Linked DNA regions of Homo sapiens: region 2 is linked to region 1. Evidence: fine-mapped expression QTL. Tissue or cell type: spinal cord. Region 1 holds a variant in brackets; the other region holds the start of a gene. All regions are shown on one strand. Distances are between the middles of the regions.

Region 1 (8,111 bases):
TTAGTCTTGGGATGGTTTTAGATTTACAGAATTATTGAAAGGATAGTACAAAAGGTTCCCATATATCCCATGCCAAGCTTCCCATATGAATACCTTATATTGGTACAGCACATTTGTCGCTATTAATAAACCAGTATCCAGGGCCGGGTGCAGTGGCTCACGCCTGTAATCCCAGCACTTTGGGAGGCCGAGGCAGGTGGATCACCTGAGGTCAGGAGTTCGAGACCAGGCTGACCAACATGGGAAAACCCTGTCTCTACTAAAAATACAAAATTAGCTGGGCTTGGTGGTGCATGCCTGTAATCCCAGCTACTTGGGAGGCTGAGGCAGGAGAATCGCTTGAACTCGGGAGGCAGAATTTGCAGTGATCCGAGATGGCACCATTGCCCTCCAGTCTGGGCAACAACAGCGAAACTCTGTCTCAAAATAATATAATAATAATAATGTTAATAAACCAGTATCCAGTATTGATACATTCTTATTAACTGAAGTCCATGCTTTGTTCTGTTTTCCTCAGTTTTTCCCTAATGTCCTTTGTTGTTGCTGCTGTTGTTCCAGGATCGCATCCAACATGCCACATGACATTTATTAGTCAGGTCTCCTTAGACTACTCTTGGCTGTGACAGTTTCTCAGACTTTCCTTGTTTTTGATGACCTTGACAGTTGTGAGGAATACCGACTGGTCAGGTATTTTGTAAAATGACCCTCAACTGGGATTTGTTTGATGTTTTTTTATAATAAGACTGAAGTAATATGTTTTGGGGAAGAGGACCACAGAGGTAAAATGCCATTCTAACCATATTATATCAAGGGTACATACTATCAACATGATTTATCACTGTTGATGTTAACCTTGATTACCTGGCTTCAGGTAGTATTTGTCAGGTTTCTCCACTGTAAAGTTTCTTATTTTTTTTCCTCCTTTTCCAAACTGTACTTTTGGAAGAAAGTCACTACATGTAGCCCACACTTAAAAGTGGAGAATTGGCCGGGTGTGGTGGCTCATGCCTGTAATCCCAGCACTTTGGGAGGCCGAGGCGGGCATATCACGAGGTCAGGAGATTGAGATCATCCTGGCTAACACGGTGAAACCCCGTTTCTACTAAAAATCCAAAAAATTAGCCGGGCGTGGTGGCTGTTGCCTGTAGTCCCAGCTACTCGGGAGGCTGAGGCAGGAGAATGGCATAAGTAAACCCAGGAGGCAGAGCTTGCAGTAAGCCTAGATCGCACCACTGCACTCCAGGCTGGGCGACAGAGTGAGACTTCATCTTAAAAAAAAAAAAGTGGAGAATTATGCTTCCTCTCCTTAAGGGTAGAATATGTAAATAAATTACAGTGTTTGGAATTTTTCTGCATAGGAGATTTGTCTATTCCCCTCTATTTACTTATGCAATCATTTATTTATATCAGCCGGTCTCATAGATATTTGTTTTATACTTTGGGTTATAATCCAATACTACTTCAATTTATTTTGATGCTCCTTCCTTTTATGACCACTCTCTAGTTTTTAGCAGACTATATAGCTGTCATAAATAAGACTACATTTCCCAAAGTCCCTTGCAGCTAGGTGTGACCATGTGATTAAGTTCTAGCCAATGGGATGTGAGCAAGGGTCACACGTACAAATTCTTTCTTTTCTTCTCACTTGTTTGCTGAAATGTAGGATTGAAGCTAGAACTGGAGTAGTCATGGTGGAAAAGAAGATGACCTTAGGAATGGAAGCCACATAGTGGTGCACTAAGATAAGGACTTGGTCCCTGACCCTGTGGCCCTCCATTGAAACCCTGAATGTTGTGACTGTATTTTACTTGAGATAGAAAAAAATTTCTACCTTGTGTAAGCTTCACAGTCTTGAGTTTTCTGCTACTCCCTGAAGAACTTTGTCCTAACACAGTATGCATAGGGCATGTGTATTCTTGCAAGTGTGTACATATGAGTAAGGGATGACTCCAAGGAATGACATTGATTTTTAAAAAGAAAATAAGCCGGGCGCGGTGGCTCACGCCTGTAATCCCAGCACTTTGGGAGGCCGAGGTGGGTGGATCACCTGAGGTCAGGAGTTTGAGACCAGCCTGGCCAACATGGTGAAACCCCGTCTCTACTAAAAATACACAAAAAATTAGCTGGGCGTGGTGGCAGGCGCCTGTAATCCCAGCTACTTGGGAGGCTGTGGCAGGAGAATCACTTGAACCCGGGAGGCGGAGGTTGAAGTGAGCCAAGATCGCGCCACCACACTCCAGCCTGGGTGACAAGAGCAAGACTCCATCTCAAAAAAAAAAAAAAAAAAGAAAGAAAGAAAGAAAGAAAATACACCAGAATCTTCTGGCTAGTTTTAGAGAAGGGGTTTTTTTTGTGTGTGTTATATTATTATCATTAAAATGTTTGTAAAGATGCAGCCATGGGTAGTTGGATGTTGTTTGCTAGCTGTTTGATTCTCTGACTTCTTCTAAGATTGGTTCTTTTGTACAAATGTAAGGCAAGTTCCACCCATTATCCTTTCAGTAAGCCCTGAGGACATTTGAAATCTCTTGGCAGATAATGCGATGTTCTACTTAGTTATTTAAATTGAATGAGTCTTTTGCTGTGCTTTTGAAGGAAGAGCAGAAGAGATTTTTTGAGAAAGATTTAGTTAGAATAGTGTGCTGGTATTCCCTGACGTGAGGTTAAATTTGTGCATGTAAGGTCGCTATGGACTTTGGGCAAGGAAGAATTGTATTAGTCCTTAAAGCAGAGTGCTGCTATGGGCTAAATTGTGTCTCCCTTAAAATTCATATGTTGGCCAGGCACGGTGGCTCACGCCTGTAATCCCGACACTTTGGGAGGCCGAGGTGGGTGGATCATCTGAGGTCAAGAGGTCCAGACCAGCCTGGCCAACATGGTGAAACTATGTCTTTACTAAAATACAAAACAGCCAGGTGTGGTGGTATGCACCTGTAATCCCAGCTACTAGAGAGGCTGAGGCAGGAGAATTGCTTGAACCCAGGAGGCAGAGGTTGCAGTGAGGAGAGAGATCATGCTATTGCACTCTAGTCTGGGCGACACAGACCCCGTCTCAAAAAAAAAAAAAAAATTCCGATGTTGAAATCCTAACTTCTAATACTTCAGAATGTAATTGTATTTAGAAACAGGGTATTTAACGAGGTAGTTAAGAGAAATTGAGGTCATTAGGCTGGGCCCTAAACCAATATTACTAGTGTCCTTATAAGAAAAGGAAGTTAGGACCTGGCTAATGGGTAGCATAGGAGTGATTGGATTGTTGGAAGAGGAATTGGCTGTGAGCTCTATAGTAACAGCTGGATTTATCTTTCCATCTCCAGTGCCTAGCAAGGAGCTGTAGGAATGAATAAATGAATGCTTGAAAGAAAACCAGGATGAGAGAGATTATCACGACGCGAAGTGTCCGGGAGTCCTTCCCAGCCTCATCTTCCTGAGGTTTTCTTGAATAGTTGAGAGTTTGGGAATAAAAAGGGGAGGGGAGGACACCAAAGACAAAAGAAGAGAATTAGCAAAGGCACATGATTATAAAGTAACCTGATACAACGCTATGTTTTAGAACTCTGCTGTCTAATAGAGTAACCACTAATCACACGTGGGTATTGACATTTAAATTAACTAAGATTTAAAATTCAGTTCCTTAGTCATACTAGCCACATTTCAAGTGACCAGTGGCCACATAGAGCTAGTGGCTTCTAAATAGGACAGAACGGATGCAGCACATTTTCCCCATCATTACAGAAAGATCTGCTGGACAGTGCGCTTTCAGGGTGAGGTACGAAGGGCAGCACAAGCTGGAAAAGTGAGTGGGGTTGGATGAAAAAGGACTTTGTGCAGCATGCTTGGGAGCTCAGACTTGATCCAGAAATTGATGGGGAGCTATTGAAAGGTTTTTAAAATTATAATAAAATACATTCATAAAATTTACCATTTTAACCTTTATTAAGTGTAAATTCAGTGGCATTAAATACATCCATATTGTTGTGCAACATTGCCACTATCCATCTCCAGAACACTTCCATCATCACAAACTGAAACTCTGTAGACCTCAAACGATAACTTTCCATTCACCTCTCCCCCAGCTCCTGGTAACCACTCTTCTACTTTCTTTCTCAATGAATTTGACTATTCTATGGACCATATAAAAGGGAAATCATACAATACTTGTCCTGGCTTATTTCACTTAGCGTAATGTTTCAAGGGTCATTCATGTTGTAGCATGGATCAGAATTTTCTTCCTTTTTAAGGCTGAATAATGTATACACCACATTTTGTTTCTCCATTCATCCATTGATGAACATTTGCGTTGCTCCCACCTTTTGGATATTGTGATATTGTGGATCAGTGAAGTACAGGGGTGGTGGACATGTACTATGCACCTGAACCATCAATATTTCATCCTCTGGGCCACAGTGATTGGCTCAGAGGCTAACATGTGAGCCAAGATGGAC[C/T]GTATTAGAACCACTTTGGTACTATATTGGAACGCTTGAGAACAGCATTCTCTCTGCTGAGGTTGCTAAGCAGCTAGAATTTACACCTGGAGCTGCTAATCACCATCTTGTCACTACAAGGAGAGCCTTCCTGAGAATAAACCAACTTTAAACCCAGAGGACAGCAGAGTGAGAGTTGAAGATAGATGGACTACTGTCTTCATCTGAACACCTGGGTCTACTTTCCAAGTTACAAGAACCAATACATTTTCTCTTTTGCATATGTCAGTTTGAAATTAGTTTCTGACACTAGCAGTCAAGAGTCCTGAAAAACACAGATTGATACATAAAGATTTGCATTTTTAAAAGATATATTGATGATTCTGGGAAGAGAAGATTTGAGAAAGCAAATCTGGAAGCAGAGATACAGTTAGGAAGCTATTACAATAGACAGAGGCAGAGATGGCTGTGATATCAAGTGGGACAGTGCCAGCAGGGACAGGGAGAAGGGGATGGGGTTTAATGCATATTTAGGAAATGGGAGGCCCAGAACTGTGTGGCTGATTGGGCTGGGCACTCAAGAAATAGCAAAATGATCCCATCTTTCTGGCCTGGAGGTCTGGGGTTGGTGATGACATTGGCTAAGATAAGCAATATGTAGGGAGGTGTAGTTTGATGGAAAAATGAACTATTCTGAACACGTTAAGTTTGAGGTGCCTGGGGGATGCTCAAATCGAGATGCTTAGCAGAAATTTGCGTAAATGAGTTAGAAGATCAGATGAAAGATCAGAGCTAGAGATGAAGGTCTGAGAGGTGTTGTCTGGCCTTTAGAGCCATGGGGGTAAATTAGACAACTCTGAGTGAGTCTGTAGAGAAGAGCAGGGACAGAAGGGAACTCTACGACATCGGTGTTCAACGAAACTGTTTTTTGATGAAAGAGGAGTCCACCCAAGAGATAAAGAAGGAAGAGGCAGAGAGTTAGGAAGGAGGCACGGAATGTTACAAGGAGGCAGTGTTCAACCCTGTCAAAAGCAATGGTGAGGCCATTCAAGTGAGGCTGGACAGGGCACCTCAGAGGTCTCTAAGCAGGTGCCAGGTGAGAAGCAGTTTTTGCTCAACCTTGCCTTGGGGAGGTAGTGCAGTGCCATGAAGTCAGACTCCACCTCTGCCCTGTAGTGCTTGGGAGATGTTTGGCAAGTCTCTCCACCTCTCTGAGTCTCAGTCTCCAAATCTATAAAATGCAGATGGTATCCCATTTATGTAAGATTGTTGTGAGGCTTCACTGAGTCATTAATAAAGCTCTAATCCAGAGCCTGACACACCACAGGCATTCAATGCATCCCAGCCTCTTTCTTTTCCATTCCTTTCATATCAGGGATGTCCAGTGACCACATTTCTGTTCATTCTTTTGAGTTTGAGAAGAGGGAGGGCCACCTTGAAGTGTCTGGGCAGGGGCTAGATCTTAAGTCAGCCTCTTGCTCCTATAAAAGTTAAAATTAAGGGCGGCATGAGGGGTCAGTAAGCAGCAAGGAGGCATAGGGGAGACAGAAAATGGGTATAGGAATCTTGCTGATTGAGGATTGGAGTCCCGGGGTCGGTGAATGATCTGTGACTCTGAAAGGGTGGGCTGAGAAAAGCAGAGACCTGAGGGCTGGGGATGGAGCCTGTGCTGCCAAACAGTGGGCCACCAGTGGCCTGTAGGTATGGACCCCTATTCAAGGCAGAGGGCCATTCAGGAAGGCAGTACCCTGGCAGGAAAACTGTGGAACTGAAAGGGACTATTTGCCCACAATAAGGAGGATTTCAAGGGTAGGAGATTCTCCCTAGCAGGAAGTTTTTCCTATGCTGTTTTCTATTTTCATAGGAGATATAAGCCTGAACAGGTGGACTTGGGACTTGGAGTAATTCATACACACACACACACACACACACACACACACACACACACACACAATGTGAGTAACCCACATTATCATCCACATATCATGCAGCCTATAGCTGGAGTTACCCCTCCTTGTGTGCTCATGGAGGTCCCATTGGAAAAGCCTAGCTCAGTCCTACCTCACAGAAAGGGCAGAAGCAATACAAGTTTACTCAGATTTTGTTAATATTTTTATTCCAATAACCTCCAAATAATATCCTATAAAAATGTAAATTATTTTTTCTGTCATCTGTTACTTATGAAAAATATTATAACAACAATAAAGGAATCTTAAAAATGATCTAATTTCATATTTTATGCCAAAATGTGGCCAGGAAGAAAGGTCCCAGTGACTGTGGTGTCTGAAAGTGCAGATTTTCAATTTGTGAGCGCTGGTGGCCTCAGAAGGACTGACTTCGTTGGTCAGGCTTAAAGAGACTCTTTGAAGAAGGTGGGATAATGGATAAAGTTTTTTTCTTTTTGAGGATTTGAATTTTAAAAGATGTTATTTAAAGTTATTGCACATATATTTTTGTTCAATGAGTTGTGTAAATGGGTTCAGTCAATCAATATGATCATTTATATTAAAATAATGTTATTTCATTGGTTTCACACCAGCCCCCGAGAGGTCTAAAGAGTGAGGAATCTCTTATTCATGCACCAGAGACACAAACAACTAAGAGAAAGGTGGGAGGGGAAGTGAAGAAAAGCCATTCCAGAGAAGGACTAGGGAATGGCGGTTATGGTGTCACAGAATCTGCGAGAAACAGCACAAGGTAGCTTCCTAGAGTCCTGTGTGCTCTGTGGTACGGCAACCCAGGAATTCAGGGCTCAAGGGCAGCCCCTCAAATGAGTGTGTGATTTGCAGGGTTTTTAAAATTTATTATTATTATTATTTTTTTTTTGCACGCATGTTGTCTTTTAAGGACCTGGCTGTGATCCTTCTGCATATACCTCAAGGAGAGCTCAAAGAGAGCTCAAGAGACCAGGAAGGCTAGAGATCTCCCTGCAGTGTCTTGCCTGAAGCCTCTGGATGTTAAGGTCTAACTTTGTCTTTCTTACAGAGTTATACCTTGTCTAACCATATGAAAATATCAGGAGGCACAGAGTTTTATCACTTTTTTGTTTTGACAACCCAAGAACTGATTGCTCTGACAATTGTGCTCTGAATTAAGTGTTTAATCGGAGTACCAGCAGATGGCGCCATTTGTCATTTATTGACGCTACTACCCACGGCTAAAGCAGGGGGCTTCTTGCCTCTTTAATTTGGATAGTATTATAAGTAAAGTGTTTTCTACTGTTTATTATGCATGAGCCAAAATTCTATGAATGTGTAACATTTTCTCTTGTATTTCCTTTTTTATAACATCATTTAAATTCCTTATTAATAATTTAAAAATGTTCTGGATTTTAATCACTTTTCTCATCACTAAAATATCTGATGAAGAGATGTTTGTTCCCCTGCTGAAGGTGAGACAGAGGAAACCATCAGCAAGGAAGAAAAAAGAGAATCTCACTTTTAAACCGAGCTCTTCGCCCCTCTCACGTCACCCCATCTTTTCAGTTTAATTGAATAATATTTATTTAATTAATAAAAATATCTGCCTAGTGCAGGTTTCAGAAATCCAAGGCCAGAATAGGCTGCCATTAATAAAACAAGTTTTTTATATCCAAGTTTAATTATGGTGGTGTGTGTTTGATAGCTTGTTACTGTAAATAAAAGAGATAAAGGCAGCCCTTCACTGGAGTAGCTCGAGAGCTGTGAA
Region 2 (8,111 bases), 870 kb before region 1:
GCTGAAATTAATAATTCCCTGTTAATTCACAATTTATATTTTAGTGGTAACTATAAAATAAAGGCTGCATCAGTCACAAATTAATTTACATTTGTATTGGAAATGTAAGGGAGCATAATGGAAGTTTAATAGACATGTAGAATATTGGTCTCATCTTGACCCACTGAGTCAGAATCTGCATTTGAATAGGTGATTCTTGGGTATAATAAAACTTGAAAAACACTGTTCTGGACAGCTTTTGGTACATTTTAGAAGGGAGGTCTGTGCAGGCCCATTCTGTTGCTGAGAATTTATTTAGAGATTCATAGCCCCAGATACCTGCACCCCAAGAACAGAAGGGGGAGCCCTAATCCCCCAGTTGCCAGTTGAAAAACTGGTTATAGTTGCTTCCTGTTCTTCACAGGGCAGGTAATGTGAAATGGAGTATTAGAAGCAGCAGAAGTAGAGGAAGGAGAACAAAAAATACGTGCTACTCCTTCCCAGTGGGGTTGCGAGCAAGAGGAGAATCTGGCAAATCCCTGGGGTCTCAGAAACATACGGAGGCCACTGTCAGAGCAGGAAGCAATCAAGGGGAAACTAGGGAAGAACAGAGTCGAAATCTTGTTCTTCTACTTCTGTGTACTGTTCTGAGTCTCCCTGGTTATTTTTCATCTCTTTAATAAATTGCCTACACTTCTGCTTTCTCTTTTTTTTTTCTCTCAAAAGTAACAGTAGTAATAATGATAATATCTTATATCCACATGATGCTATATACTCTCTGGTATATAGTAGATATAACAGTCTTTTACGAAAGGCAAGTTTAGGCTGTTTTGCAAATGATAAATGTTCCATACACTTTCTCCCATTTTTAATTGGGTTATCATTAAAAGTATTTCTTGTTTTTCATTCATTTTGGCAAATTTTGGAGGGTTTCGGTGTGTTTGTGTGCACACAGGATAATTTGTTGAGTTATTGCCAAAGTGAATTGAATGAGGAAAGTGAGGAAAAATACTACCATTAAGTAGATCAACCCCCTTATTTTGAAGGTGACAAAACCAAGCCACAAGAGTTTAGGTGATGTGACTTGGATCCTATAGCAAGTGAATAAAACCAGTATCTCCCATTCTTTACATTCCACAGTACACTCTACTGATATGCATGGAATAAATTTTAGAGAACCTGTGAGCTAAATCTTAACCTTGTGTCCAAGACAGATCTCACCTAAATGGTCCTTTAAGAAGATAACTACTCTTACTATTCTTTAATTTCCACAGAAGCAGAATTTATAAGTTCCTGTGACTCATGAGATACAGTATGATTAAGAAGGGCTTTGAAAAGTGCAAAGCACCATACAAACATGAGAGATTGTTTCTAATAATGACCGGTGCCCATAAGCCTTTATTGCCGAGAGTGTCTTTACAATATCCAAACTCAGTGCCTCCTTCTGCAATGTGAGACAGTCTCTGTTTTGTTCAACTTTGGAATCTTTTCACCATCAGGTTCTCAAGCAGCTATCTCTGAAACCAACTGGCTTATCCTGACATGCTCAATTCTGAGTTTATGTTTCATTGTGTTTCACCTTTGCGCTTGATCTCCATGCTTTGACATGGTGGTGATTTGACAATACAAATGGCTTCCCAGACCCTATCTGGACCATCCACTTTGTTCCTTTGCTTTGAAAATGAGTCTAAATTTGAAGGAAATTGGATAAAGGAGGTAGGAAATGTACCATCTGGGCCCTTGGCAAACTGTGTTTTGTTTAAATTCTTAGTCTTGACAATTTGTCTCTCTTCTTTTCTGATTTATTTCACAGGGATTACATAAACTAACGTGGCCCATGAGCTGTGTAGCCCAACCGTACAGTGTACTACACTTTCCTCTTCTAAATGGGATTGTTGAAACCAAAGCCTGAGAGGAACTAATCCAAAATTTTCTTTGATTTCCCCAAAATGTCAAATCTCCTGACTTCTCTGACACCAATTGGATGTTTTATTCACTTAGACTGTGGGTCTATACCAGCTGACTCCATGAAAAAAATAGACAGGCCCTTCTGGGGCCAGGTTGAACTACAGAGTCAGACAATGAACAAAGATGTGCTTTAGATTCTTCAGTTACTGAAATTGAATAACTCTTATTTTCTTGAAAGCAGAATAAAAGCAAAGCAGATTCCTAGAGTTTATATAACATTGAAATAAACACTTAAAAACTGTATTCCTCCTTTCTTTTCCTTTAGGTATATTTCCTTTCTCAGATATTATAAAATCTAAAATCTATGGCTATGACCAGTTAATTTTTGTTTAATGAAAGGATAAAAAGTTCACTTTATTGACGAAGTCACACTTCACAAAAAGATGCTGTGCTCAGTATAATTTCTAATTCCTTTACTCAATTTCATTTTCTCCACCTTTTCAGGCTGTAAGGTCAGCCTGATGAAAGAAGAAGGCAGTAAAAAGAGACCTTCAGCTGGCCCGGTCCCAGGCCTGGTTGCTGATAACAAAAAGGGCTCTGAATTAGACGTTTAAAAAAAATCAGATAGATAAGAGTAGATATCATGCCTAGACTCTCAACCCGGGCTAAGCAAAGCCTGAGTGAGCTTGTTCAGGTTTCAACCCAAGTGAAGCTGGACAAAATTGTTCATTTGTAGCTGTTCTTTATAAAGTTGCATGCACTCTCTAGCCAATATTTTCCACCCTCACATCCCAAGGGAACCATAGTAATGATAAAAACAAGTGGAGAGAGTGCTGAATATCAGTCCTCAATCACTCCCTCCCATAGCAAACAACCTATACAAGTGTCATGAAAAACTTCCCTGAGTGTTGGCAAAAAGCCGCTCTTGCAGTGTGCTTACGAGTTTAGTTTTTGAGCATATTGGTTTATCGATGGGAATATTTGTATTCTTAAAATCACAAGAGGTTGGCATAAGAAAATAAACTGCCAGGGATATTTGAAATGAAGTGCATTGTTCTGCTCAATGAGTCACATTTACAGACAGAGCCTTTGGAGCTGCCACACCTCTGGCCTTCTACTCTGAAGACACAGTGAACAAGCAGAAAAAAACTAGGGCTGGGAATTCAGTTTGGGAGAAAAGGCAGCTAAGCTGACCTTTGAACTTTAGGGTAAGACCCTTGGGCAGCCACGTAATGACCAGCGCCATCCCATTCTTCAAGGAGAGCACCATACTCAAGCACTGCCTGTCAAGAGGGAGCAAGAGGGAAACTGCTCTAGAACAGAGGAGATGCCTTCTAGAAAACAAGGGTGGGGGAAAGAATTTTTACACTATAACCCGGGGCTCCTTCACTATCTTGTTTTATTTACTTCTCCTGACTCCATTCATTCAGTCATTCAACAGAGAGTTTACTGAGATAGGTGCTGGGGAAGTACTGAATGAAAACAGACTCCATCCCTTCCTTCATACAGCAGGAAGCTGACAATCAATTATACAATATAAATTTGACATTGTTACCATGATCATACTGCAAAGGTGAGTTATCTGATGCTATGGAAGCATGAAAGAAGGGAATTTGACTTAGTTATGGAGCTCAGGCCAGGCTTCCAGGACACAGCTGGAATTTGAAGGAAAAGCAGGTGAGAAGAAGCATGAGAAAATGATTCAAGCAAGACAGCAAGGGGAAAAAAATTCCCTCAACATCTGTCAACATTGCAGTGCAATATCAAAGCCCAAGTTCAGAAGACTCCAACCTTGCTGGGAAGAAGAGTGACATCACACTGCCCATGAAGATGTTGAAAACAGACAATGTTGGTGAAATCCCTGTTGAGAGCAGGGACAGACCGTTTCCTAAATGCTACACTCCCCTCCCCAGAAATGTTCCGAGACGGGGCCACAGCAGGGAAGAGTCACAGGTTTTGCTTGCTGTGGACCTCTGACGCTGTGAATAAAACTTTTTCTTTAGTTTTACAATAGATGTCACTGTGCGGCATTCTTAAACACAAAGAAGAGGGAGAAACGAGGTTACTAAGATAATTTAGTAACTAAGAGAGAACATGATATATTGAAAAACAGTGGAATTTGGAGTCAGTTGGTTCATTCTAGTACGATGATAATACTCCCAACCTTGAACAAGTTACTTAGATTTTTTTGAACATTAGTTCTGTCACCCATAAAATAGGCATAATAAAATCCATCACTCAAAAAATGTTAGTTTCTTCTCTCATTGGCTAATTTTCATAATCAGAATTTCCAAGACTCATTATTTTCATTTGAAAAGTACAAATTATACCTGCATCAGAGTATTGATATTTAAATGAGTTCATTTGTAAACTTTAAAGCATGAGGTAAATATCAGGTATTATGAATCAGTCATAAAATATTTGCGATGGTTACTATATATTAGATCCTGTTTTTGGTCCTGGAGAAATGGAGGGTTGACTGAAGCAGGGCCTTGCCCTTAGGAGAGAGCTGAAGGAGAAATCTATTCTTCTTCCTGAGGCAGAGAGAAAAGGTAGCAAGGCCAGAGGGAAAGGGCTGCACAGGCACCCAAGTTCCTGGCAGTTGGCCCTCTCTGGGGGATATCTGATATCTGACCTCCAGCCATCAGCTGAGAGCTTGCCCAGACTATCTGACCCAAGGGCTGTAGGGACTGGGCTGCAGAATGGATTTCTAAATCTTCAAAATAAACAGGCAAGGAAATCTTGCAACAAATGAAAAATGACTTGAGGGCAGTAGAAAGTACTTGTGCCAACTGATGGAGGAGGTTATGAAAAATGAGGAGAGGAAAATCACTATAGACTTCTGTGTTTCTACTGCAAGTGGATTGAACAGTCCAGATATACTGATTTCCAGCCCATATTTCCTGCTTTTAAGCTCCTTTGGTCTTATTTCCCTCTTCTTTCTGAAAAGTTATAAAATGAATGAAGGGCAGAATGTTTCTTGCCCAACCATGATTCAGGAGGCAGCTCAGCCACAGAACAGGCAAGTGTAGCATTGCCTGGAGGAAAAGGACTTGTAGAGGCAGGTCCCAGATGGATCCACCCCAGACTTTTCAAAGAAGACACCTCCTTCATCTTGTGTTCTAAAACCTTGCAAGTTCAGGAAGAAACCATCTGCATCCATATTGAAAACCTGACACAATGTATGCAGCAGGCTCAGTGTGAGTGAACTGGAGGCTTCTCTACAACATGACCCAAAGGAGCATTGCAGGTCCTATTTGCAACCTGAAGTTTGTGACTCTCCTGGTTGCCTTAAGTTCAGAACTCCCATTCCTGGGAGCTGGAGTACAGCTTCAAGACAATGGGTATAATGGATTGCTCATTGCAATTAATCCTCAGGTACCTGAGAATCAGAACCTCATCTCAAACATTAAGGTGAGTGGAAATTATGAAATTGATACTAGCATCCCATTTGATCAGACCTGTAGCCTTATTTAGAAGCTAACTACCCTGCCTGGTTTGTATTTGAGTAATACAGAGAACAGCATTTTTAAAAGATAGCGCCACAACGTTATGATTATGGCTAACTAAGCCAGTTTGTTCATCTAATTCTGTGTAGTCTCAGCTCACAGAGTGTTGATCTAGCCCTCTATTTTGTTATTGTTGGTTGCTACTAATTTCAGCTCTTTTGTTTTCCTACATGACTGTTTTTGGGGTAGCAACTTAGAAAAATAACAACCCATTGTGGCAACAAAGATTGAATATTTAACTGATGAATAAGCATGATAATGAGCATGCTTGTTAAAATCATATTGCTAGATTCCATCCTGAGGGTGAGAATTCTCAGGCAGAAAGGGTGAGAGTCTGCACGGTGGGCCAAAAAGCAAAATTATTTCTTTTCACTTGAATGTGCTGTAACATAATTGACTATTTTTACTTTAATATGGCAAGGGAGGATCATAGCTCTATGATGTAAGAGCCTCCATTTAGTATTGCTTTAGTGAAATCAGTAGCATCATAAGGTGTGGTCTTGAATGTGCCCACAGGTGTGACATGAAAAGGATTTGTTCCACAAAAGCTTAAAAGCCTTTCTCAAAATTGGGAAAACTATGAAGGCAAGCACAGACATATAATTAGTGTCCTAAAATCTTCCATATAATCATTTAAAGTTTTTTTAAAAATTTGCTCCTATGTTTTCCCAAAGTCTAGGGCTTTCTCTAAAAGAAATGGGTCTCTTCAAAATATTTCATTGTCTTTTATTACTGTTTAAGCATACCAGAAAACCAAAACATACAGGATTTACAAGTGGTAAAGTAAGTTTTTCTTTTGTCTGGCTGTAGGAAATGATAACTGAAGCTTCATTTTACCTATTTAATGCTACCAAGAGAAGAGTATTTTTCAGAAATATAAAGATTTTAATACCTGCCACATGGAAAGCTAATAATAACAGCAAAATAAAACAAGAATCATATGAAAAGGTAAGAATCCAGGATTTCATTCAATGATCTCAAGGGGAAAAAAAACACCAAAATATACTGTGCTCAAACGATAAAAGTGAGAAGTTAAGTAAAAACAAATCATCAGTATTAACAATGCAAATAATATTAATGGGCAGAATGTTATCAACAAAATATATGAGAATAAATGAATGCAAATTGTGCAGTAAAAAATGAGTCAAATGCCATAGCCTAAGTAGTTTCTCAGAAGATCTCTTTATTTTGTAACTTATGGAGTACTTTCTGAAAAGTTTGGTTGAGGATCAAGAACTAGTTTTATCCTACTGAGGATGAGCTGCAAAGGGAACAGTTCCAATTATGACTATACCCATTTACCATCCTGTCAGGAGCAATAAACATGCATGTCCAGACAGAAATATAAACCACCATGCATATAAAAATATGACTGCCATCTTATGCCATGGTGTAGATTATCAGAATTTCACATTAGCTCAAGTCCAGAATATTGTTTTAGGGGAATAAGGAGATTAGAAGGAAGGGAGGAAGGATGTGGGGATGTGGATGAGTAGGGGAATGGCTACCTTTTTTTTTCCACCTATAGAGGAACTTCACCTTGAAAGGCTCTCATAAGTTGCAGATCATGATTAAGCACCCATGATGATGTCTGGTACATACTAGTGTGCACACTATAAATAAATGATAAATAATATAAATGGTAAATCACTGTTTGAAGTCAACTGTGAACAAGAGTCCATTGCAGCTACCAGAAGGGCCAGAAGTAGAGGCATTGGCAACTTATCTCAGGGTTTCAGCAATGGAGTGGGTTTGAGATTGTAACTACATCTCTAACAGAATGACTCAAACATGTGGTACAGCTTTCCCCTTTCCTTATTTCTGACCCTCAGTATGAAATTTCCTAAGTCTGTTTCATTCTTAGCTCTCCTTCAAAGCTACTCTGTCAGAAATTGAATGGTATAGCAATCCAGATAGGTACCCCAATGTCCTGAAGAAGTTAAAGAGCCTGTGAAAAGCATTTGACCTATGACCAGATGAAAGCATTTGAGAATGCTTGCACATGAAGATAGGATAGGTGGGGGAACTGGGGTAAGCTGGGAAGAGTTAGTGTTTAAGCTCCAACTAAGTGCCAGGCATTTTACATATATTATTTAATTCTCACATAACTTAAAATTAGTTTCTGTGATCACAAATTAAAACACTGGGGCTTGAATAAGGTATGGACTTTGTCCCAAATCTAACAGCTAGTAAATTACAGAGCCATAATTTGAATGTCTATTTGCCTCCAAAACCCATGCTTTTTGCACTAAGCTTTGTTGTCTCTAGCTGTCAATAGAGATTTAATGCATCTATTGGGCCTTCAATAGAACTAAGAAGTATTGGAGACAACAAACACCAAAACCAGGTTGCCATAGGTAACACTTGATCCTAATGGAGGGGAGAGAAATAAGTAAAGCAAAAGTGAAAATATGAGTGAACGGAAAGACCAAAGGAAACAATCGTCCCTGGATGCTGTTCATTTATCTGTTGGATACCAATTCTTTAACCTCAGAATGTCAATTAAGCAAACAGTGAATGATCATTATGTACGGGACCACGCTAGGCACTTCAGAGAACCCAAGGACCAGCAAGGTAGTTCCTGTCCTTCCAAGTCTACAATGAGATGTAGGTAGGAATCATGGAAGGGGGAAAGGGTTAGGAAAAGTAGATAAGAGCTGAATTACTGTGGTCTATAAGGTATAAAGTAACCCCAAACAGCCTCTGAGTATTCCA

The links. PIP is the estimated chance that this variant, and not a neighbour inherited with it, causes the effect.
Region 2: it holds the start of CLCA2, and the variant in region 1 is fine-mapped to the expression of CLCA2 in spinal cord (GTEx, PIP above 0.99).

Annotation. Positions count from the first base shown.
Region 1 is chr1:87,285,578-87,293,688 of GRCh38, forward strand. No RefSeq gene overlaps it. Among named protein-coding and RNA genes, the nearest start is that of LMO4, 39 kb to the right of the region's middle. The variant C/T (reference allele first, on the strand shown) is at 4,446.
Region 2 is chr1:86,419,133-86,427,243 of GRCh38, forward strand. CLCA2 (chloride channel accessory 2) reads left to right here and starts at 5,039. Exons shown (of 14, transcript NM_006536.7): 1 at 5,039-5,301; 2 at 6,207-6,344. The coding sequence starts at 5,116.